Linked DNA regions of Homo sapiens. The protein of the gene in region 2 interacts with the protein of the main gene of each other region in a biochemical or structural test. Each region holds a gene or a part of one and is shown on either strand. Other genes may lie near its edges.

Evidence for each region.
Region 1: the proteins of PDZRN3 (region 2) and SIPA1 interact in a test that uses a peptide from one of them, tested with the Homo sapiens proteins (one large-scale study listed by IntAct).
Region 3: the proteins of PDZRN3 (region 2) and PARD3B interact in a test that uses a peptide from one of them, tested with the Homo sapiens proteins (one large-scale study listed by IntAct).
Region 4: the proteins of PDZRN3 (region 2) and CGN interact in a test that uses a peptide from one of them, tested with the Homo sapiens proteins (one large-scale study listed by IntAct).
Region 5: the proteins of PDZRN3 (region 2) and TMIGD1 interact in a test that uses a peptide from one of them, tested with the Homo sapiens proteins (one large-scale study listed by IntAct).
Region 6: the proteins of PDZRN3 (region 2) and CTNNA2 interact in a test that uses a peptide from one of them, tested with the Homo sapiens proteins (one large-scale study listed by IntAct).
Region 7: the proteins of PDZRN3 (region 2) and KIDINS220 interact in a test that uses a peptide from one of them, tested with the Homo sapiens proteins (one large-scale study listed by IntAct).

The regions. Positions count from the first base shown.
Region 1 is NC_000011.10:65,641,101-65,644,600, forward strand, and holds part of SIPA1 (signal-induced proliferation-associated protein 1), read left to right. Parts: coding exon 1-500; intron 501-1,149; coding exon 1,150-1,277; intron 1,278-1,362; coding exon 1,363-1,539; intron 1,540-3,500. UniProt on the Homo sapiens protein: GTPase activator for the nuclear Ras-related regulatory proteins Rap1 and Rap2 in vitro, converting them to the putatively inactive GDP-bound state. Affects cell cycle progression.
Region 2 is NC_000003.12:73,618,442-73,621,941, reverse strand, and holds part of PDZRN3 (E3 ubiquitin-protein ligase PDZRN3), read left to right. Parts: intron 1-3,500. UniProt on the Homo sapiens protein: E3 ubiquitin-protein ligase. Plays an important role in regulating the surface level of MUSK on myotubes. Mediates the ubiquitination of MUSK, promoting its endocytosis and lysosomal degradation. Might contribute to terminal myogenic differentiation.
Region 3 is NC_000002.12:205,118,975-205,122,474, forward strand, and holds part of PARD3B (partitioning defective 3 homolog B), read left to right. Parts: coding exon 1-72; intron 73-2,616; coding exon 2,617-2,975; intron 2,976-3,500. UniProt on the Homo sapiens protein: Putative adapter protein involved in asymmetrical cell division and cell polarization processes. May play a role in the formation of epithelial tight junctions.
Region 4 is NC_000001.11:151,531,887-151,535,386, reverse strand, and holds part of CGN (cingulin), read right to left. Parts: intron 2,986-3,500; coding exon 2,815-2,985; intron 1,413-2,814; coding exon 1,251-1,412; intron 346-1,250; coding exon 256-345; intron 1-255. UniProt on the Homo sapiens protein: Probably plays a role in the formation and regulation of the tight junction (TJ) paracellular permeability barrier.
Region 5 is NC_000017.11:30,317,058-30,320,557, forward strand, and holds part of TMIGD1 (transmembrane and immunoglobulin domain-containing protein 1 isoform 1 precursor), read right to left. Parts: intron 1,857-3,500; coding exon 1,753-1,856; intron 177-1,752; coding exon 136-176; intron 1-135. UniProt on the Homo sapiens protein: May control cell-cell adhesion, cell migration and proliferation, cell morphology, and protects renal epithelial cells from oxidative cell injury to promote cell survival.
Region 6 is NC_000002.12:79,908,051-79,911,550, reverse strand, and holds part of CTNNA2 (catenin alpha-2), read right to left. Parts: intron 1,958-3,500; coding exon 1,754-1,957; intron 1-1,753. UniProt on the Homo sapiens protein: May function as a linker between cadherin adhesion receptors and the cytoskeleton to regulate cell-cell adhesion and differentiation in the nervous system. Required for proper regulation of cortical neuronal migration and neurite growth.
Region 7 is NC_000002.12:8,778,614-8,782,113, forward strand, and holds part of KIDINS220 (kinase D-interacting substrate of 220 kDa), read right to left. Parts: intron 1,202-3,500; coding exon 1,061-1,201; intron 527-1,060; coding exon 283-526; intron 115-282; coding exon 26-114; intron 1-25. UniProt on the Homo sapiens protein: Promotes a prolonged MAP-kinase signaling by neurotrophins through activation of a Rap1-dependent mechanism. Provides a docking site for the CRKL-C3G complex, resulting in Rap1-dependent sustained ERK activation.

The DNA.
Region 1 (3,500 bases), on a different chromosome or scaffold from region 2:
CAGGCCCCCCACGCCAGCCAGCCCCCGTGCCCGTGCCCACAGCCACGAAGAGGCCAGCCGACCTGCAGCCACTTCCACCCGGCTCTTCACTGACCCGCTGGCACTGCTGGGGCTGCCAGCAGAGGAACCAGAGCCTGCCTTCCCACCAGTGCTTGAGCCTCGATGGTTTGCCCACTATGACGTGCAAAGCCTGCTCTTTGATTGGGCTCCGAGGTCTCAGGGGATGGGGAGCCACTCAGAGGCCAGCTCTGGGACCCTGGCTTCAGCCGAGGACCAGGCTGCCAGCTCGGACCTGCTGCATGGGGCACCTGGCTTTGTGTGTGAGCTCGGGGGTGAGGGTGAGCTAGGCCTGGGTGGACCAGCATCCCCACCTGTGCCCCCTGCACTGCCCAACGCGGCCGTGTCCATCCTGGAGGAGCCACAGAACCGAACCTCGGCCTACAGCCTGGAGCACGCAGACCTGGGTGCTGGCTACTACCGCAAATACTTCTATGGCAAAGGTGAGGAAAGGCAGTTCCAGGGAGTGGAGGAGGGGGGCTGAAGAAGAGGTCCCTGTCACCTGCAGTGCACACAGTAGGGCTCATGAACTGTCCATTTCCTGTAAAGTCCCTGGCCCTGGGAGGGCTCAAGAGCTGAGCTGGGGTCCTCCTGGACCTACTTTCAACCACCTTCTTAAGGCTAATCCCTGGCTCCTCACCCCCAGCCAGGGCTGGTCCCTCTGCCTCCGTATTGGTTCATCCTCCATCTGGTTCAACCTGCCAGGCTGGGGAGAGATTCCCTATGGGCTTTTCTGTGGGGTGAAAACTCAGGCCTCAAATCCCTGCATCCGTGAACCTTGTTCGCACCAGCACTGCGGAGAGAGGGCTCCAGGACATAGAAGGGAGAATGAGGGCGTGGTGGGTGGAGCCAAGGCAGGATTTAGGCCTGGGAGCTGGCCGCGTGGGTCTAGGTCTGGGTCTGGGTCCACCTCTGGGTCAGGGTTGAGATCAAGATATTGAGCTCGGGGCTACAGAGGGGCGGGACTTAGTCTAGGGTCAACATTTGGTGGTGAGATGAAGCCTAGGGCGGGGCTTAGTGATGCGCGTGGTCGAGCGGGGGCGGGGCTGCCAGAGGGCGGGACCAATCGTTTTCTTCGGCGCGGTCCCCCAGAACATCAGAACTTCTTCGGGATGGACGAGTCGCTGGGCCCGGTGGCAGTGAGCCTGCGGCGGGAGGAGAAGGAGGGCAGCGGAGGGGGCACCCTGCACAGCTACCGCGTCATCGTGCGGACCACGCAGGTGGGCCGGGATCGCGGGATCAGGACGTGGGTTGCCTCCCCGACACCTTGTATGCATCCTGAGTGCCCTTACACCCCTTCCTCAGCTCCGGACACTCCGTGGCACCATCTCGGAGGACGCGCTGCCGCCGGGGCCCCCACGGGGTCTGTCCCCAAGGAAACTTCTGGAGCACGTGGCGCCGCAGCTGAGCCCCAGCTGCCTGCGCCTGGGCTCAGCTTCACCCAAGGTACCACGGACGCTGCTCACACTGGATGAGCAAGTGGTGAGTGGCGGGCCGCGGAGCCCCCAGCCATACAGCTGGCCCCAGTCTGAACCCAGCCTGCCCAGCTCCCAAACCCCTAGCCTTGACCCTGATCCTGGGCTGGGTGGTGACCCCAGAAGAGCTGGCTTTTCAGAGACAGGGCATCAGAGTTCATCTGGAGCCTTGCGTCTCAAAGTGAGCTCTGTAGACCAGCAGTATCCACATCATGTAGAAATGCAGATTCTGGGGCCCCACCCCAGACCATCTGAATCAGAGTTTGCACTTTATTTATTTATTTATTTATTTATTTATTTTGAGATGGAGTCTCGCTCTGTCACCCAGGCTGGAGTGCAATGGTGGAATCTCAGCTCACTGCAACCTCTGCCTTCCGGGTTCAAGAGATTCTCCTGCCTCAGCCTCCTGAGTAGCTGGGATTACAGGTGCATGCCACCACGCCCAGCTAATTTTTGTATTTGTAGTAGAGATGGGGGTTTTACCATGTTGGCCACGCTGGTTTTGAACTCCTGACCTTGTGATCTGCCCACCTCGGCCTCCCAAAGTGCTGGGATTACAGGCATGAGCCACTGCCCTTGGCCCAGAGTCTGCATTTTAAAAAGATATTTGCAGCCCTAGATGCCCTGGTCTGACTCACCCCACTGGTCCTGCAGTTCCCGCATCATTCCTGGCCAATTTCCCCCACAGCCCCTGCTGGGTTTCCTCTAACATGTGGTGCTCACAGCTTCCTGGAGCGGCTCCTTCCATCCCCCACTCCATGCTGAAAGCTGCCCATTGGCTGAGTCTTCTCCTCTGTATCATTCAACCCATCAGTCATTCAACAAACATTTCTTAGACCTTTTTGGTGCCAGGCCTCAGACTGGATGCTGGGGACAGGTCTAGACCAGGTGCTTTGCTTGAGTAGCTCACAGCTGGGTGGGAGAAAGAGACCCACAGAGAACTGCTGAAACACAGGAGCAGTACTGGAACACTGAAAGGGAATGTTGAGGGCTGCCTGGGCCACGACGGTAGTGATGAGAGCCCTTCCTTGGCCAGGGTTTTCCAGCATGGAGAACACAAAAGGGCTCAGGCCCGGATAAGCAGGTGTTTTCTGGTCAGAAGGAATAACTTGTGCAAAGGCTTGGAGAATGAGAGCATGGCACATTAGGCAGTCAGTTCAGCGTGGCTGGGGTTGGGATTGTGGGGAGGGGCGGGGGAGAAGCTTGCATTTGTTCCCGTGGACACTGGGGAGCCATGGAGGGATACGGTGCAGATCTGAGAGGGGCAGCTCTCTGGCTGCAGCATGGGGACTAGACTGTACGGGGCGGGGATGCCAGGCTGAAGGCTATTGCAGTTGCCCAGGCTAGACACAGTGGCAGCGATAGTGGAGGTGAAGAGGAGGTGACAGTCCAGGAAGGACTGGGTAGTCATGTGGCTGACTGGAAGGGGTGAAGTGCTAGGATTTCCCAGCTTCTTGGCCCCCAGGAGTGGTGGTTTAAGGAGGAGGAGCAGGGTGGGGGAGTCACAGCAAGGTGAGACATTAGGCAGCCGGAGAAAAAGGCCCGGGGTTTGGTAGGCCGGTCTGAATGGGAGGCGGAGATGGGGGTGTCATCCTTGCTGCAGCCAGGGAGGGGGAGGAGCATGGGTGGAGAAGAGGCCCAGGCAGAAGAGGGCGGGGTTCCTGGGGCCCTAGGCAAGGTGAGTTTCCAGCTATCCCCAGTGCCACCTATGGCTGAGAGGGTACCAGGATGAGGCCACATCTGGGGACCATATGGGGAGTGGGGGGTGCAGGGGGTTGGGAGGAATGAAATCGAAGTGGGGACTGTAAGTGCAGACAAGTTTAGTTGTAGAAAAGGGAGGTGACCGCTGGAGGGGAGCCTGTGCTGTTTGGAGGAGTTCAGAGCACCTTGAGCTGGGCATGGTTATCCAGTTATCCGCAGAGGGAAGAGCCGGGAAGAGGGCACAGAAATGGGAGCATGGGGGGCAGA
Region 2 (3,500 bases):
CTTTCTGGAGTGTTTGGGTAAAATCTCCCTCAGAGTCAAAAATATGATACTTGAATCAAAACTGTGGATGTTTTTGAGGCTCTGTTGAGTTAGTGGGTAGCATAAAGAAGGATGTTAAGCTTAGAGACAAGATGTTGATTTTGAACTTACGGAGAAAGGTTTGTTCCGGTGTTGGAGCCCTGCTTGGAACTTTTACCAACCTCAGTGCCAGCCTTGAGAACAGCAAAGGATGGTCTGGCCCAGAAGCTGCCCTAGATAGTTTCCCTGGCCTCAGACCCAGCCTGGCCTCAGCTGAGGCCTTAGGGAAGCTTGCTGTCTCTCCTTGCCCCGAAATTAACCCTCAGTGGCCCTTACTGAACGCTTTTGCTGTTCCTGGGTCAACCATAAAACTCCTCCCATTGGAAGCTGTTTAAGAACTTGTTTATTTCATTGGGCCGGCTCTCTGCTCCTGCTGGGTACTGTTTATTCTCTTCTAAAAGGCAGAAGGATTTATATGTCCTGGAAACTCTCATGTGCAACATTTTTATTTTCTTTTTAAAATAAGCCCTAATGTTTGCTTCTCTGTTATAAGCTGAAGGAGATTAGAAACACTCAGATTTTCAGTACCAGCTCTTCAGCAGCCTAGAACTTGCACAAATGATGTGGCATTCTTTAAATTATCTTAGGTTTCAGTTTTTTTGACACCTGCTGAACGCTTAGGGTTTGTTAGTGCTGTACCAGCATAGACGTTGTCTCTTCTGTTCTACCATGTGAGCTATATTAAGGATTCTCAAGCCTTAGCGTGATTGGAGTCACTGGAGAGCTTAACACAGATTCCTCAGTCTCACCCCTAGAGATTCTGATCCATTAGGGCTGGCCAGGGGCCTGATATTCTGCATTTCCAATGAGCTCCCAGATGATGCTGGTCCTTTAAGTAGCCGCTAAGCTAGACGAAGAGCTTACGCTCAGGTAGATATAGACCAAACATGTATTGGTCTTCACACAGTTATGGTTTCACTGGTCATTGTCTAAACACCTTCCTAAATTTCTTAAGACCAGGATAAAATTTTAAAACCCAGACTGCCTAGGCCGGGCTCAGTGGCTCACGCCTGTAATCCCAGCACTTTGGGAGGCCGAGGCAGGCGGATCACGAGATCAGGAGATCGAGACCATCCTGGCTAACACGGTGAAACCCCGTCTCTACTAAAAATACAAAAAATTAGCTGGGCGCGGTGGCGGGCACCTGTAGTCCCAGCTACTCGGGAGGCTGAGGCAGGAGAATGGCGTGAACCTGGGAAGCGGAGCTTGCAGTAAGCGGAGATAGTGCCACTGCACTCCGGCCTGGGTGAAAGAGCAAGACTCCGTCTCAAAAAAAAAAAAACAAAAAAAACCCAGACTGCCTAGCAGTTAAATGACAGGTAATCATAGCCTAGACAGGCATCTCTGATCTCACTGAGGCCACATCTGAGCTGCAGCAGACTTGGGATTGCTACACTTGAGTGAGTTAAAGAGTTCTGCTCCCAGCCTCAGTTTCCCATCCTGACTTACCCCCTGATTCTTAGAGCAAAAGCACTCCAGAGCAAACATCTTTTTTGCTTTTCTTTCTGGGAAAGGAACAATTCTGGACATAACTTTCCTTGGATTGATTGAAAAACTTGAGATACATCCTCGATACCTTTTGTTCTTTAACCTCCCATCCGGTCTGTCTTTGAATCCTGCGGATTTTACCTCCTAAATACATTTTGAATCTATTCACAGCTCTCCAGCTCACTCAAATGACCACCGTGGTCCAAACCAGAGTTTCTGAATCAGCACTGCCAACATTTTGGAATGGATAATTCTTGGGTGTGGGTGTGTTGTTGGTGGTGGTGGTAGTGGTGATGGGGGTGGGAGGCTGACCTGTGCATTGTAGGATGTTTAGCAACATCCCGGGCATCTACCTACCTACCTACTAGAGGCTAGTAGCGCTTTCCAAGTAGTATCAACAGTATTTGTGGACATTGCCAAACGTCCCTTGAGGGGCAAAATTGGCCTTTGTCTCAGACACTCTTGCCTGGACCATAACTCTTTCCTCTACAAATCTTCTTGCTCCTCTTCAATTCCTTCTTTACCTAGCATCAGGAATTAATCTCTTATAAATGTGTATCTTTTATCACTCTCCCTCAAGCCTCCTATGCTGTCCCATTTCTCTTGGTTGGCTATAAGGTCCAACATGCTCTGGATCCTACCGGCTTCCACCTGCCTGGATTCTTCTCCCCTTCATCCTCTTCTTTCAGCTTCTCATGTCTCTGAGAGTCGATGCATGTGCCCCTGAGCTCCTCTCTGCCTCCAGGCCTTTGCACTTGCTCTTCTGTCTACCTGGAACAATCTTACCAAGTACTCTGCACTAAATAACCTGCAAAATTTCCACTTCTCTCCTCTTGCCCACAGCCTTTCTGTCTGCACTTAGGATTTGCTTATCACTAGACAATGGTTCTTTCTATTCTCATCTCAGCTGAAGCATCACTACCTCTAGGAAGCCAGGCCTCTCGGACCTCGCAGACTACATCTGGTGCCCTGAGACTCTTACTTTGGTTATCCTCCTGCATGGCATTTATCATAGCTGTAACTAAATAAGTGGAAGAGTCTGTCTTGTCCAGTACCATGTCTGTGGCACTAATCCATTGCCATGTGCACTGTAAGCTCTTGATATGTATTCATTTGGTGATGAGTTCAAGATTGAAAGGCCTGTCTTGGCAGTCATCAAAACTTTTCAGGTTGCTAACCAAAAGTGGGCTCGTGTTTAAAAAGAATGAGTTTCTCCGTGATGACCCAGTTAACAAAATTGTTTTCAGGTTTAGGGGAGGCATTATTTTTGTTCCACTAGATCCACCCAGATCAAGTTTTATAAAGCCCCAAATCCTAGAAACTATTTTGTCCTTTTCAGAACTGGAAATAAGTAAATCTGATAGACAATTGTATCAAAAGGTGTTCCAGATGTCCAAACACTTTGAAATGTATCTGTTAGAGTATTCACCATGAAGTATATTTTGTTTCTGAAAAGCTCCTGCACAGGGCCATTCCATAGTATATCTAACAAAACAGCGCACTTCTGCTAAAAAAAAGTTACAGATTGTCACTTCTATTTCATTTCTGTGATTTATAAGGAAAATTAGGATTTGTTTTACAAATATGTTACCCAGCTACACTGGATTAAATGAGTATAACCAGACAATTTGAATTGGCAATTCTGTTGAGATTTGTCTGTAAGTGGCTCTTTCTGTGTTCAGAAATGGTGCTTGCCTCGCTATAAAAATATTTGATGAGTAAGAATCTATTTATAAGGCAATTATGCATTGGACCGTAGACCAAGGAGCTTAAAAGAAAAGAAAATAATATTCATTGAGTTCCACTGGGTGCCATACACTTAAGGTGCTTTCTGTATGTGCATACATTATCTTCTCCATGTTCTTCATTAGATAGACCTCTTTTTTTAATGGGAGTAGCAGATTATGAAAGATTAAGGCTAGAAGTTAGATTCT
Region 3 (3,500 bases), on a different chromosome or scaffold from region 2:
GGGACTATTTCACGAAAATGAATGTATTGTAAAAATCAACAATGTGGATCTCGTAGACAAAACCTTTGCTCAGTAAGCATTTTTTCATTGTTTTATTTACTTTCTTGATCCCTAGCATGGTTATAAGCATTACTGAACTCATTATGATCAAAATAGTAGGTAGAATTTCTAGTCAGTTCCCTTTGAACGATCCAGGATATCCATTTTCGAATGCTTCTAATGTTTTAGCCTACTCAAAGGTGGCCCACACATGTCTCTGGCAGGTCTGAGAATGCTAAACTACAGAATATCACAAGCCTTCCTGCCTGGCTGTCTTTACTGGGGCGTCGTTGAACGGGTTTGTTTTTCTTGGGCTATGGGTCACTTAAACTGGTATTTAACGGCTCTTTTCACAGACTGTTGGTTCAGCTTATTAATTAACTTTCTTGGTGTCAGCAGTCTTCCTTAAACTAAAAAATCTGTGAGAGATGTCTGAGGACTCACCGAATCATAGAAACAAACAGAAAAAATAAAATACCGTCTCCTGGCCAGGCGGAGTGGTTCATGCCTGTAATCCCAGCATTTTGGGGGGCCGAGGAGGGCAGATCATGAGGTCAGGAGTTCAAGACCAACTGGCCAATATGGTGAAACCCCATCTCTACTAAAGGTACGAGAAAAATTAGCCAGGCGTGGTGGTACGCGCCTGTAATCCCAGCTACTTGGGAGGCTGAGGCAGGAGAATCGCTTGAACCTGGGGGACAGAGGTTGCGGTGAGCCGAGATCGCGCCTTTGCACTCCACCCTGGGTGACAGGGAGAAACTCCGTCTTCAAAATAAATAAATAAATAATACTGTCTCCCTCAAGAAATCATCTTTCTGCATGTGAAAATGTTAAGGGAATAGCTTCCTGTACCCAGGAATTAGAGTGTATAGTAATCTGATGCATATTTTTTTAATGTGTGTTGGCATTGCAGTGGGATTCTGGACCAAAGGACTAAGTACTAATAATCCTTGGGAGTCATCACCACCCTCTTGTTTCTGACCAAAACAGCTCCTAATACATCTTCTCGCTGGGCATTAGTTGTCAATATTGTATGCGTGTTTGTGGACAAAGATGAGTGGTTGTGGGTCGAGGAAAAGTGGGTACTGGCTGCTAAGTATGAAAAGAAATGAAACCTTAGAAGAATCTATTGTGTTAAAATAATGAATGATAGACAAAACTATAGTTAGTAATAATTTTTAATATACTACTGTGCTTTTTCACAAGGACTTGATAATTATGCAAAGCAATCATTATTACTTCTGTTTTATAGAGGTGGAAACTGAGGCTCATAAAAATTTAGTATAGAGTTAGTATGGAGTAGAAACTGATTCCTATGCAAGCAAAAATAACATAGGGGAACTGACCACAGGAGTTAGGTGGAGTTAGGCCTATGTGAAATCTTCCTTCTCCCCTAACAATTTGCAGAATTAAGCACTTCAGAAAGGGGGGTGCGGGGTAGGGTTTAAGGAATCAGATTGCAGTTGGGATTATGATTAGTTATTATGTGCTGTGGCTGCTAGGAACAGAGACCTGAAATAAGAATAGCTGAAACAAGATTAACATTAATTTTTCCTAGCAACAAGCAAACGTGGAAGAGGGCACTCCACAGTTAGTGCGGCAGCTGCACAGCCGCCAGTGGGTCAGGCAGCTTCCGTTTTCTGCTTTGCCATCTCGCCATGTGGCTACTATCCTTCAGTGGAAAAATGGGCACAAGATGGCTGCTGAGTTTCCTCAGTCACTTCTGAGTTTCAAGAAATAGGGAAGAGAAACAGGAGAACAATAAAAGTTTTTGTCTCTCTACTGAACCAGCCGCTTCTAAAGAGCTTTCCTTTAACGCCTTCATTTATATCTTCTGGGCAAGAAAGAGTGGGAAAGGTAGTTGTTTGACCTGGGCACAGGGCATCTAGAGGCATGAGGAAGAAGAAAATGTTATAAGAAGTTTGAGGAAGAACACAAAGTGTTAGGTCATAAAAGTGAAAAACACAGTTGCTCTGTGTGAGAGTAACAGGAAGGGTGCATGTTGGATTGAAATTCCACTGAGACATTTTGGCACAGCCAAAGCACCTGCCAAAATGTCTCCATGAGCAAACATGGATGTCAAACTTGAACTTGTGTAACACAACCCATGTTAGAGAAGATCTGTACTTTAGAAGGATGTCCTAAAAGAAACCTAACTAATGATCTGATCCAAAATATCTATTTTGCTTTTTATATTCACTTTGGTAATCACTTCTGGTTAGATTTTCATCTTTAGAAACATGTAAAAGCTGTGGGTCATTGGATAAATTATTTCATCTCTCTGAGCCTCAACTTCCATGTCCGTGAAATGAAAGCTATTTATACTTACCGAATGTGCTTTCTAAATTAGAGAAGGATGCATGCTAATAATGCATGTATAAGCTAGTGCAGGGGCACCTAGTGCAAATAGTAAGTGGTAACTAGTATGTAGTTGGCAAAGTCATTCTGATAGGAATATTGATCGTGTCTCCTATGATTAGCCACTGTGCTGCTCTTGGTTGCCATCCTCCTGGGGTACTTTAGAAGATGCTGCACCTCAAAGCAGGGTCATCATACATTTATCAACTTTCTTTCCAGGGCTCAAGATGTCTTCCGCCAGGCAATGAAATCTCCAAGTGTGCTCCTCCACGTGCTTCCTCCACAAAACCGTGAACAGTATGAAAAGTCAGTCATTGGCTCTCTTAACATTTTTGGTAATAATGATGGCGTTTTGAAAACCAAAGTGCCGCCTCCTGTCCATGGAAAATCGGGACTAAAGACAGCAAATCTCACAGGAACCGATAGTCCTGAAACAGATGCATCAGCTTCCCTGCAACAAAACAAGAGTCCCCGAGTACCAAGGCTGGGAGGAAAACCATCCTCTCCCTCACTCTCGCCTCTCATGGGATTTGGCAGCAATAAAAATGCAAAGAAAATTAAGATTGACCTAAAGAAAGGTAATTATTAAATTATGCCTAATAGCATTCTATTATTGTAACATGTAAAATTGGTTAAGAGAAATGCATTAAGGCTAATTTAGTTAATTCTCCCTTCATTTAATTGTATCAAAGAATAGATTTAAGTGTATACTTAGGTAACTTAAATTTCTTGAAATTGTACTTTTTTATTCTTTTCTTCGGAGTGTATAGATTATTTTAAACAAGAAAATAATAAAGACATGTTGGGAAGTGGAAAGAATCATTGCAAACCTGATATCAACAGAGCAATATTGTATTACAACTTAATACCAAATAGGCATGAAAATTCAGTTGTCCCTGTTCTGAGCACGATTAGTGATTCTTGAAGCATCCTTTAGGCCATGTCCAAAAAGCATATTGTTTTTCTAAGACAGTCTTCTAACAACAAAAATTTACTCCTCAGAAAGCAAATATGTAATGTTTACTAATTTCTCTGATTCAACGTCACAAACATTTAAAACATACCTAATTTCAAAAGCATGTATAATATTTTCTTTCTTCATC
Region 4 (3,500 bases), on a different chromosome or scaffold from region 2:
AACCAAAGAAGCCCCAATTCAGGTCAGAGAACAGCCCAGGCCACCAGGATCCCTTCCTCCATGCAAATCATTGGCTTCTTTCCACCCAAGGAAACTGGCCAACCTTTCCCAAAGCAGACAAAACCCTGAAGGAGACCCAGCCACGCACAGATTCGGCAGCCAGATGATGAAAGATGGGAGGGTAGAGTTGTTTTTGAGAGAACCAAGAGGTGATGCAGTCAGGGGTAAACAGAGATGAGGGGTGGGGGCGGTTACCTGGTCCCGGCCACGATTCACCCGATCTGTTAGCAGCTCCACGGTGTTCTTCTCCTCATCTAACTCTGTTTCCAGCCGTGAGACTTTTTCCTAGGACAGAAGAACAAGTAATTCTGTCCCAAATGCTGGACACCAGAATGCCAAACTCAGACCAGGAGCCTCTCAAACTCCAGCATTAACAGACTTTTCTCTCTTGCACATCCCAGTAACCTTTTGGTACTTGCCTGGACCCAGAGCCACTATGGAGCCAGCGCCCTCTACTGACCAGATGTGGCATCATGGGCAGGTCGGGGCCATGCTCTGGTGACGGCCCTTTGACAGAAAGGCAAACCCCAGAATCTACTCTTCATTGGAAAACCTTATTTCTCTAATGGGAAAAGAGAGAGAAACCCAAGTACCTGGGCCAAGGCTGAGGTGAAGAGACTCAGAAACTGAGGTACTGGAGGCAGTACCACGTAGAGGCTAAGAGTATGTACATGGGACCAGACTGTCCAGTCTGAAAATCAGATTTACCACTTCCTGGCAGTAGACCATGGACAAGTTCATCTCTCTGTGCCTCAGTTTCCTTCATCTGTAAAATGGAGAAAACAAGACTACCTACCCCACAGAGTTATTCTGAGGATTAAGTCTTAAGTGCCTATCACACAGCACAATATGTTTGCTGCTGCTATTATTATTATCAAATATAGCAAACTGAAGAATACTGTTCACTCTAAAGGGGAAACCCACTGCTCAGCTCCAGCCAACTGTTGCCATGCAGACTCAGGACAAGACACTCAGTATTACCATATCTGCCAAATACAAAAGAAACTAGAAATCCAAATTTTTAGGTGACCTCTATAAATTTCTAAACATTGGCAATTGATTCAAAGTTGTTGAAAATACTGCAGCCAAACAAAACTCATCAACTGTGGGCTGTCGGTTTTGACCGCTAGTACAGAAAGAGGCTTGGAAGTCCCACCCTTTTTCCACAGGTCACACCTCAGTGCCCTCACCTCGAGACCCTTCAGCTGCCGGGCCCTGTCGTCCTGGGAACGCTTCTTGTTCTCTGCCTCTTGCTCCAGCCCCTGCAGTCGCTGGGCCAGTAGCTCTTTGTCCAGCCGGGCTGTGTCCCGCTCAGCCTGGGATGCCTGCAGGGCCTGCCGCAGCCTCTGGATCTGGGCAGGGGGTAAAAATGCCACAGCTCAGTGTAGTGAGAAGGTGAGGGTTGAGGGGCAGGAGCAGTCCAGCCCAGTGGGCAGAAACATTTCATCACTGTCACTCTTTAGAATTACCAGTGGCATGATGACAATAAAAAGCAAACTGACTTTTCATCCATTTTCTTTTTTTTTCATTTTTTAGATGGAGTCTCGCTCTGTCGCCCAGGCTGGAGTACAGTGGTGCGATCTCAGCTTACAGCAATCTCCACCTCCCAGGTTCAAGTGATTCTCCTGCCTCGGCCTCCCGAGTAGCTGGGACTACAGGCATGTGCCACCACGCTTGGCTAATTTTTTGTATTTTTAGTAGAGACGGGGTTTCACCGTGTTAGCCAAGATGGTCTCAATCTCCTGACCTCGTGATCTGCCCGCCACAGCCTCCCAAAGTGCTGGGATTACAGGCAAGAGCCACTGCACCTGCCCTCATTAATTTCCTTTATTGTTTTTGTTTTTGTTTTTTGAGATGGAGTCTTGCTCTGTCGCCCAGGCTGGAATGCAGTGGCACAATCGCGGCTCACTGCAACCTCCACCTCCCAGGTTCAAGCAATTCTCCTGCCTCAGCCTCCTGAGTAGCTGGGACTACAGGCATGCACCACCACGCTCAGCTAATTTTTGTATTTTTAGTAAAGACAAGGTTTCACCATGTTGGCCAGGCTGGTCTTGAACACCTGACCTCATGATCTGCCCGCCTCAGCCTCCCAACGTGCTGGGATTACAGGCGTGAGCCACCGTCCTCAGCTTCTTTATTGTTTTTAAAGTCTCTACACAACTTGGAATCACCTGAGGAGTTTTTTTAAATTCTGATCCTGGATCCCATCCCCAGAGATGATGACTGAAGTGGTATGGGATACAGCCTGGGTGTGGGGATTTTTAAAAATCTCCTCAGGTGGCTCTAAGCTACAGAATTTGAAAATCACTGCTCTACAGACAATATATTCCTCCACCCTGCAAGTCATTAGACCTAAACCTGGGCCCCAGGGACCCTTGGCCACAGGTTCAGTTAAGAGGCAAGGACCGGGCTGGGCGCAGTGGCTCATGCCTGTTATCCTAGCATTTTGGGAGGCCGAGGAGGGCGGATCACGAGGTCAGGAGATTGAGACCATCCTGGCTAACACGGTGAAACCCCGTCTCTACTGAAAATATAAAAAATTAGCCAGGCGTGGTGGCAGGCACCTGTAGTCCCAGCTACTTGTGAGGCTGAGGCAGGAGAATGGTGTGAACCCCGGAGGCAGAGCTTGCAGTGAGCCAAGATCGCGCCACTGAACTCCAGCCTGGGCGACAGAGTGAGACTCTGTCTCGGACAAAAAAAAAAAAAAAAAAAAAGAGGCAAGGACCTTCAAACCCAAGGATATTAGACTTCTACCTCATCCTGAAGTCGGCTCAGTCCTCCAGAGGTCTTCTCAGCCTCACTGGCCCAATCCTTGGCCTGGCGCTGGGCATCTGCCACCTCCCGCCGGGCCTTTTCCTTATAATCCTCCAGCTGGGCCTGGAGCTGCTGCAGGGCTTGCTTAGAGTCCTCCCCGATCTTCTCCAACTGAAACACAGAGAAAAGGGTCTTCAGCACTGTACATAAATGACCCTCTCCAGGCCCAGACTCCCAAGACTCTCCCCTAAGGGTCTCCTTCCTGACAAGGCAGCCCTCTCTTGCTCTTTCCTGGGCCTAGGTTCCTAGTATAGCTAATAGTTATATACAGATGTCTGGGTTCAAATCCTGGCTCTACCACTTACTGGTGACCATGTGCAAGTTACTTATCTCTCTGGGTCTCAGTCCCCCATCTGTAAAATGGGATTAAAAATAGTAACTATATCACAAGGTGTTGTGAGAATTACATTAGTTAATTATGTGAAGTTCTGTACTTACAACAGTGCCTGATACAAAGTAAGCCTTAAATGACCATTTCAGCAAACCCAAGGTGCCAATGATTATACGGCGTACCACTAAGAAAAATATGCCAATTAAACTATAACATACCATAAGGTATAAGACACAACTCTATTTCAGAAATGATAAAATGTGCATTTTTCATTGACAAATGATAAGATGTGCAT
Region 5 (3,500 bases), on a different chromosome or scaffold from region 2:
CCTCCACCTTCTATTCTCCTTTGAACCCCTTCCCCTTCCAGCACCTCCCATCTCTGGAGTTTGTCTAGAGTGATGCATATCACTGCTATTCATCTGCTTATTTAAAAAGCACTGGTCCCGGCCTAGAGTACTTACAGAGCTGTTTCACTGTGAGGGTCTTTATCCTTCATGCAGAGCTAAAAGCAAACATGGCAGTAAATTAGCCTGCTTTTTAAGGCCCATGGAGAAATATTTTGAATGCATTAAGATGGCTCGAGGACAGGTGTGTGTCCTGTGCACACCTCTGCACTGGCTCAGGCGTCATTTTTGGGGCCACACTAGTAGTTTTTATTAAACTCAAAGAAGATGTAACTCTTAGTTAAGATGCTTCCAGTGTCTTAGATACTTGAGTATTTACTTTTTTATAGAAAAAAAAATGCGGCCGAGTGCAGTGGCTCACACCTGTAATCCCAGAACTTTGGGAGGCCAAGGCAGATGGATCATTTGAGGTCAGGATTTCAAGACCAGCCTGGCCAACATGGTGAAACCCTGTCTCTACTAAAAATACAAAAAAACAGCCAGGCATGGTGCCACATGCCTGTAGTCCCAGTTACTCTGGAGGCTGAGGCAGGAGAATGGTGTGAACCTGGGAGGTGGAGCTTGCAGTGAGCTGAGATCACGCCACTGCACTCCAGCCAGGGTGACAGAGCAAGAATCCATCTCAAAAAAAAAAAAGAAAAAAATGCTTTGTGGCTGGGTGTGGTGGCTCATGCCTGTAATCCTAGTGCTTTGGGAGGCTGAGGCAGGCAGATCACTTGAGCTCAGGAGTTCGAGACCAGCCTGGGCAACATGGCAAAACCCTGTCTACAAAAAATACAGAAATTAGCCGGGCACGGTGGTGCATGCCTGTGGTCCCAGCTACTAGGGAGGCTGAGGTGGGAGGATCACTTGAGCCCAGGAGGTTGAGGCTACAGTGAGCTGTGATCAAGGCACTGCACTCCAGCCTGGGAGAGAGAGTAAAACTCTATCTCAAAAAAATAAAAAAAGAAAGAAAGGAAGACAGAAAGAAAGAAAGAAAAGAAACAACAACAACTAAAATATGCTTGGGATTGGAATAGGGGGTGGAGTGAATTTCTTCTTGAGAGACATGGCTGCCCTGTTGCTATGTGTTCCAAGGAGAATGCCCCTTGCTGAATGATGAACTCAGCCTAGGGCTTTCTGCCTTTTTTGCTCTCCTTTGGCACTGAATTAGCTGGCAGAGTCAAATGCATGGCATTAACCTAAGCATGCACGTATTCTGAATCATACCAACCAACGAGGATAACCACTTTATAATTCAAACACCAGTCCACTACAGCCAGGGCATGTGGCTATAGTCCAGAAGTGAGCAGCCAATGCCATCTTTTCCATGCAGATCTCTGAATCTAGAGCGGATGTTCCTCCCTATATTTATTTATTATACCACAGGTATCATAGCAACAATAAAGGGCAATTTAAAAGGAGGAAAATCAGCCCCCAATTGCCTACCCCTGGCAACACAGCTATTTTCAATTCAGGCTTTGCCCATGTGCACTTCTCTTCTTTGTAAATCTGTACTCATAATGTACATATAATTTTTATTCCCTTGAGCAACTGTATTTTAGATCTCATGGTATAAAGACCAGATTTGACTTTGCCAAGAAGGGTTCCTAACTGAAGTCACTTATATTTCTAGCTTTCTGCCTTTATTCAGATGATGGCTTTTTACTTAAATAGCTCAGAATACTTAGATACCTTCATTATTTTCTTTCTTCTAGCAATCAGTCCAAAGCACAATGTCAGAAAGATCACAACACATGCAGCAATAATGGGCTCTATTGGTACACCCACAGTTTTATCTGTAGGAAATGCAAACACAGGGAATAAGAATGAACATTTATATACTTCCAATACGTCCCAGCAATGGTGCCTTGAACTTTATGTGTGTCATCCCCTTAATTAAACCTTCTCAACAATCTCAAAAAGTAGGTATGATTGTCCTCATTTCACAGGTGAGGAACCAGGAGGTTTGAGGGGTTAGAGTGCTTGTTCAAAGTCATAGAATTAGGCCGGGTGCAGTGGCTCATGCCTGGAATCCCAGCACTTTGGAAGGTTGAGGCGGGCAGATCACTTGACGTCAGGAGTTCAAGACCAGCCTGGCCCACATGGTGAAACCCCATCTGTAAAAAAAAAAGAAAAAAAAAAAAATATATATATATATATAGCTGGGCATGGTGGCAAGTGCCTGTAGTCCCAGCTACTTGGGAGACTGAGGCAGGAGAATTGCTTGGTCCCAGGAGACAGAGGTTGCAGTGAGCCAGGGTCGCGCTACTGCACTCCAGTCTGGGTGACAGAGCAAGACTCTCTCTGTCTCCAAAAAAAAAAAAAAAAAAAAAAGTCACAGAACTGGTAAATGGTAGAGGCAGGTTTTGAATCAATTCCTTTGTGGAATAATAATTTATTGTAATATGAGTAACTCCCCTAAAACAAGTAGACCATTTTGTGCTTCCTTCACCCACAGTTTTTGCCACACACAGAGCAGAAGTAGATTGAAGTCAACGATTTTGCCTGGATTTTGAAAAGTCCAAAATATATTGGGAAGTATCCTGGGGTGGGTGAGGGAAGAGAGGGAGGAAGGCTTTGAGAGCAAGAAGAGAAAGGGTGGAGAGCTTTCTGGACTAAGAAGGAGAGAGAGGTCTGTGGGCCTCAAAAGCAGTGGGGAGCCTTGTACCTGTACTGCAATGGTGCCCCAAGCAGGTGACAAGACATTATAGAAGGTAGGTGGCTGCATAGTGTCTCTAGGGAAGTAGGACTCTAAGCATGAGCCTTCCCAACCTTGGCAAAGTTTTCTGCATCTCTCTAAATGCCATGCAAAGAGAGAGAGCCTACTTCTAACTTGGACTAGGAAGAGATCAGCAGCAACCATGACAGCTTGGAAGTGAAAGCCTACCCCTTTATTTTCTAAACACCAGGTCAACTGAGAGCTATTTTTTTTTTTTTGAGACGGAGTTTTGCTCCTGTTGCCCAGGCTGGAGTACGGTGGTGCAATCTCGGCTCACTGCAATCTCTGCCTCCCAGGTTCAAGTAATTCTCCTGCCTCAGCCTCCCGAGTAGCTGCAATTACAGGCACGTGCTACCATACCGAGATAATTTTTGTATTTTTAGTAGAGACGGGGTTTCACTGTGTTAGCCAGGATGGTCTCAATCTCCTGACCTTGTGATCCGCCTTCCTTGGCCTCCCTAAGTGCTTGGATTACAGGTATGAGCCACCGCACCGGGCCAAGAGCTACTTTATTTATCAGTCACTATAGGCATAGTGCCTGTGTTTGCAAGCTTTCTAAGAGCCTTTGAAAATATTTGAGACCCAGAAAAAAATGATTGGCCCCAAGATATGAAAAGAAAGTAGCAAAATTAATCAAAATTAATCAATGTTTAAGCATCTGTAAAATGCAACCTGGCATCAACTCTAACCGAACTGTTAAATAATAATGTTTAAACCTCAA
Region 6 (3,500 bases), on a different chromosome or scaffold from region 2:
TGCATGAGATTACACTGAAAGAAAAACTTCTAGTTGGCAGGATTCTAGACACCAAACTGAAAATTACATGTCACGTGTTGATCAACTCTTATTTAGTCACGTTCTGTGATTTCTATTTAGAAGAACATACTTTTTTGTCTGATTTATTTATATTGAGATCTTAACCATCACTGTGATCTCTGTAGTTTCTACTTCCTTCTTTGGCAGTAACTATTCATTAATAGAACCACTAGCGTGCCTTAATGTAAAACCAAATTCCACATCCATGTAATTAGCCCTTTGCTATTTTGTTAACAACAACAACGAACAAACAAACAGCGTCTCAGATTTCATAAGCATTCTTCGTTGACACATCTGCTATTCAAAAGATTCACTCAGCTGGGAGACTGTGGGGTCAACATTTCTAGCTGCACCCTACGTAATACCATGGATCAAAATTACAGAAAGTGTTGGTCATCCAGGGTCCTATAGAGACGTCCTCATAAGCAGCTGGGTGCCACATGATGCATCCACATTTTATTCTTTGTGTGCTGAAAAAGGCCAAGTCTTCCAAAATCAAAGAATCTGAAGGTTCATGGAAAGGAAACAAATTTTGTTTTTTTTAGTTTGTTAGGTTTTCTCATTGACATCTTTTTGCTTTCTCAGTGAGTTCTCTGGAGGGTCAGCAGGAGGAGCACTGCTACTGTCAACACTCATTCCTTGCTTGCATGTCTGTTAGCTACATATTTTTACTCATGATGGGAGTGGTAAGATGCTGGAGGGAGAGACACTGAATGGCTGCTTTGTTTCAGCATTGCCTCGGGGTGTTCTAATAATACCTAACATGGACTTCAGTAGCTGTGAGCAGATTTTCAGTGTCTCTGTTACCCACCTGGTAGCTATACAGGGCATTCCTTCAAAATGTAATATCGAGACCTCACTTTATCTACATTTTTCCCCAATTTGTGCTAAATTATCTCAAACCCGAAAGTCCAGGAAAGGGGGAAGCACAGATCATCCACTGTTGCAAGCATCGCCTCTGCTGAATGAATGTAGCAAATCAATACAGCCATAATTTAGTGCCTTTCAAGGCAAAGAATATGAGTTTCATCACCTTCTTGCAGGTTACAGGTACACAGAAACTGTCACATTTTACAACTATAGGAGAGGATGGCTATTATGTGCCAAAATACAATTAGATACCAGTCATACATACCTATTTGAAAACTTAAGAGACTCACTCTTATAAGCAATTCCTGACTATGAATCAATAAAACACCTCCAAATTTTACTACATTTAGAACTTTTCCTTAAACAACCCTATCCACACGTTTTTTAAACCTAGTAGATTTATTAATGCCTCTTAGGGGTGAAGATTCGCATCTACAGCTATCCTTAGGTTTAAAAGTGCTCTTTGTAACAGAGGACTTACTATATCCTCAGCTGTTTCCATCAATCATCTACCTTTACCAATTGAAATCTTACCTACTTCAAAATGCAGCCACTAAAATGACCGAGAAGAAATCAGCCAAGTAAAAAGTGAAAGAGCTTATTCTCCATCCACCTGTTCCATATTAAAACAAACAAACAAAAAATGGATTCAGAAACAACACACACGACACGCGCTCTCCCAAAGCAGTTCTTTGGTTTCACCTGACTCTCTTTGGTAAACACCTGGTCTGTTCTCTTTTCCTGCTATCTATGCTTCCAAAAGAGCAACACGATTGCAGAACAGAATCCACCAAGACATGAGAATGGAGATCCCAAGACTTACATTATTCATGTACTCGCTGAGCAGGTCCTGGAGCGCCTGCCGCACGGCGTTGCACTCCGCCACGATCCTCTCGCGCCGGTCGTCTCGCGTGCAGGAGGAGTCGGCCATCAGCGCTGCGCCGCTGATGATGCTCTCCAGCCTCTCCTCCAGGGACGGCCGGAACCTGGCCTCGCTGAACGTCATGGGGTCCAGGATAATCTTATTCTGAAAGTATCACACACACACACACAAAAATCAGCAGAGAAGAGAGGTCTGCCTTGGCACCCTGTTTTGAAACCAGAAATATCTGAGGCAAGAACAGGAGTCCCCAAGGAGGAGAAACTGGTTACTCAAATTCTAAAGTTGCCTTGACAAAGTATTAACTTTTTCTAGATATTTTGTCCTAAATGTAATCTTCAGCTAAAAGAGCACATCTTATTTGAAGAATATGTTCTTGGCAAAGGCTATCTCAACGGAAGAGCTTTCAAATAAGATTAGGACACTTTTTTGGCATTTTTAAAATACGTAGCCTTTAAGGAAAGAACATTTCAGTGTAATGCTTTGGGGAATTATATAAAGATTTTAGAGCTAAAACATGATAAATAATCAACATCTTAATTATGCATTAGCTGTGGCTTGTATACACACACGTTAATCCTCCTCATGAGAAGCAGATATTCCCATGGCAGGATGCCTTTTGAAACTTGGGCACATAACACCCAACAGGCATATTCAGTACAGGTTAATTTATGCTAGTGTTCTAGAAAAGGATTCCTAATGTGTGTATGAGACTTGTCACAAATAACTGACAGTATCCTTATAAAGGTATTTACCTGTTTGGAAGGAGCCTATATAAGAGGAAAATAGTGATATTTCCTAAAAGGAAGGCGTCACATAGAACATGAGCTTAGCATTTCCCCAGCCAAGTTTTAGGAGCCTGGAAACATGTGGGCAGAGATGCCCCGAGGTAGATGGAAATATGCGTCCAAAATTCAGGAGCTATAACAGTCTTTATAGGGATCTGGTAAATGTCAGGGGTATTTGGACATAAACTAGTGAATTACATACTAGTAAAGTGAATAGAGCCAGAAGAGCAGGCCAGAGAAGACCCCTATACAGAAGGACCAGAATCAAAAAGGAAGACAGAAAGGGTAGTCAGAAAGATAGAAACAGAACTTGGAAAACTCCCAGCAAATGAGGAGGGTAGAGCGTGATGGTATGTGATCATTAACTGTGTGAAGTCTAGAAGCAAAGGTGACATTGACCAAAGGCTGGTTTCCTTTGGGGAGCCTTTTCTGCCTGAAGCAAAGAAGTTCATTCCACAATGATAAGGTAGAATGACCTGCTGCAGGAAATGGTGTGCTTCATTGGGGGTGCACTCTCAGAGGTCCAAGAACCAGAGTGGCAATGATGGGGCAAATGGTCTTCCAACTGTAGAATACTATGGTGCAATTGCCACTCTGTTACTGCTTCTTTTGACGTTCCTTATTCCTTATATATTCACCAAATTTAAAGAGTTGTAAGAAAAGAACAATTTACCATATTTACAAATACAATACGAAACATAAATGAGAATAGGTAGTTATTCTATTGCTAATCTGCACCTGCCGAAGACCTACTATATGCCTACTACTGTACTTAATGCTAAAAAGAAGGGGAGATAAAAGATGCTTTTATGGATTTTTTATGCTGATGTAGTATATACAATAACTGCTTAAGTTATTACAAAGTGAAGTCCAGCTGTATGCTCTGGGAAAGTTTGTTGTAA
Region 7 (3,500 bases), on a different chromosome or scaffold from region 2:
CAGCTCGAAGCCAATGGCATCTTACCCGTCTATTGAGGGCTGTCTTGCTACCAAGTTTTGTCATCTCCCCAAGGCTGTTCTGTGAAACTCTTCTGTCAGCATCTTCCTGTATCCCTTAAATAATTTATCAAGACAGCATCACTTACACCAAAATTCTGTTGTATATGATATTTAAAGAAATGTGAAACAACAACAATATTTTTCAAGGTAAAAAGGAGAGTCGCCATAAAGAAACTACAAAACTATTTCAAACTCAAAGTACTTTAGGAGCCTGAGCTTTACCTGTAGTATCTGAGCATGGAACGTCTCCATTTGTTGCTGAAGTTACGAGAAATTTTCTTGCATTGCTTAGTCCACGACTATTAAGGAACACAGGCAAGTGGACTATGTTGCGCATGTAGTCATGGCCATTTATATTTGAATCCCGAAGCACACTATTGAGGTTCTGGTTAATTGCCTTTATGATAATATGTGGATCACTTGCAAAAATGGCAATGAACGGGCCTTTTGAAAACAGAACTCGGACCTGTGGCAGAAGAAATGTACAGTTGTGACATACATTTTAAATTGTCCAAAAGAATAAGGCATCTCTTCAAAATATGTGCTACCTTTTGGTGACAATATTTCTAAACTACTATTTCTTTTCATCAAAACTTACTCTGCACAAAAGCAAATTTTACTGACAGCTCAATCTAGGTTTGTTGTCATCTGACATAGATAAAACCTGCAAAGAAAATTAATATTGTCCTTCTTTCAGACATTTACAGTCTGCTAAAGAGGTAAATCAATGCACATGAGAAACATTCATGAATACAGATGCTCTATTCATTTTTCTCACAGTGCCACTAAGCTAAAATTATTTAAATATCTTTGTGACTAAACATTTATTCTTGCTACATTTCTGTATAAAGAATGGTTGTTTTTACAAAAGAAAAATCACAAAATAGGAACTACTCAAACAAAAACCAATTCCGTTCTATTTTTAGATATTTGTGAAGTCAAACATTCTCTCAAGTGCCACAACATAACAATGGTGGCTTTTGAGGTGGCGCAAACGTACAGTGTCCAGCATCTGAAGGACTTTGTCCTGCTCACAGGCATCTAATCCATCGATGATGACCACCAGCCTTGTCTGATTCTGAGTGAAGCTGTCAATGGTTTTTGCCATCCTGGCCATCAATTCCACTTCACATTTAAGAACCTGTATTGCAAAGGAAGGTATAGAAAGCACTGAAGGAAGATCCAAGAAGCTTAAACATATTTCTTAGAAAGCGTGATAGAAAGTCATCTAATAGGAACAGAAGACATTCAAAGTCCTTGCTGCCAGTTGTGCTTCCACTTAAAATAAGAGCGAGTGCTTCACAATTTACCAAGTGACTACACATAAATTACAGCAGCTGATCCTCAGAATGACACTGTGGGATAGACACTACCATATCTGTTCTAAAAAGAACAAACTGGGTTGAGTGACTAACTTGCCAAGATTAGAGGCTCTGAATGTGAAAAGATTCAGATCTGGATGCAAATCCAAATGATCAAAGCACTACACTGCTGCTGGCTCCCTGATGGCATCTGACCTTTCACTTTGAAAAAGAAAATCCTGTATTATTTATTTTGGTGGTTCAATTTGCTATTTTTAAAAACAGATATCTTTACTGGGCTCTAGAGGAACTTATATTATTAGACAGTAGTTGCTAACTCTTTTGAATAACTTATAAAAGTCTATTTTATAAAAACATGCTACTGTTATGATGTTTCTCACTCCAAATATGTATTTCCACTGGAAAAATCTGGAATAGAACTCAAAATAAATAAAAGGACTGCTGGTTTCTGGTTCTACATATATGTAAACACTTTGGAAGTGGCCACTCCTTGATTACGTAAGCTTATATATGTGTGTGTGTGTCTGTGTGTGTGTGTGTGTGTGTGGTGGGGGGTGTGTGTGTGTGTGTATAATGTACATATTATGTATGCTTATAAATGTAAATGAAATTAGTAACAACAATGATACAAGGGACGGGAGAGAGGAATTAGGATTATTTTGCTATTATAAGATAAACTACCTGAGAAGTGATATAGTATTACTTGAAAGTGGGCTTGGATTAGTTATAAATGCATATTGCAAACCCTAGGGCAACCACTCAAAAAAAACAGTTTAAAAAAAAGTACAACTGATATGCTAAGAAAGGTGAGAAAATGGAATCATAAAAAAATGCTCAATAAAAGCATAAAAGACAAAAAGAAGAGTAGAAGACAAAAATAGGAACAAAAATCAAGCAACAAATAGAAAACAGTAACAAATACGATAGATATTAATCCATCAAAACCAATTATCCCTTTGAGCGTCAGTGTTCTAAAGATATCAATTAAAAGAGATGTCAGAGATGATCAAAAAATAAGAGCTAATTGTATGTTATCTACAAGAAACCCACCTTACATAAAAAGACACACGTAGATTAAAAGTAAATGAATGGAGAAAGCTATACCAACACCAATCAAAAGAGAGGGGGAGTAACTATATTAATTATTATATATATATAATATATATATATTAAAGGGGGGCATTACATAACAACAAAGGAGCTGATTCTCTAAGGAGACATAATAATCCTAAACATTTATATATCTAAGAAAGGAGAATCAAAATATGTAAGACAAAAGCTGACAGAACTGCAAGAAGAAATAGATAAATCCACTATCATAGCTTGAGACCTCAATACCATTCTATAAGGACAGATGCAGCAGTCAGAAAACCAGTAAGGACGCAGTTCAGCTCAACAACACCATCAATCAACTGGCTATAACTGACACCTACACTTATTTCATCCAAAAAAAGAAAAAAAAACAGAATACACATTCTTTTCAAACTCACATAAAGCATTCACCAAGATGGACCACATTCTGAGCCATAAAACACGCCATAACAAATTTAAAATAGAAATCATGCATACAATGTCTTCCCCTCAGTGGAATTAAACTAGAAGTCAAAAACAGAACGATAATTGGAAAATCCCAAAACATGCAGAGATTTAAAAACACACTTCCAAATAACACATGGGTCAAAGAAAAAAGTCTCAAGAGAAATTTTAAAATATTTTGAACTAAATAAAAATGGAAACACAACTTATCAAAATTTGTGGGACGCAACAAAAGAACAGCTGAGAAGAAAATTTATAGCACTGAATGCATATATTCGTAAAGAAGAAAGATATAAAATCAGTAATCTGGCTGGGTGCAGTGGCTCATGCCTATAATCCCAGCACTTTGGGAGGCCAAGGTGGGTGGATCGCTTGAGCTCAGGAGTTCGAGACCAGTGTGGGGAACATGGTGAAACCCTATATCTACAAAAATTAGCCAGGTGTGGTGGCGTGTAGCCTGTGGTCCCAGCTACTCGGCAGGCTGAGGTGGGAGGATCCCTTGAGCCCAGGAGGCAGAGATTGCAGCAAGCTGGGATCGCACCACTGCACTACAGCCTGGGCAACAGAGTGAGACTCTGTCTC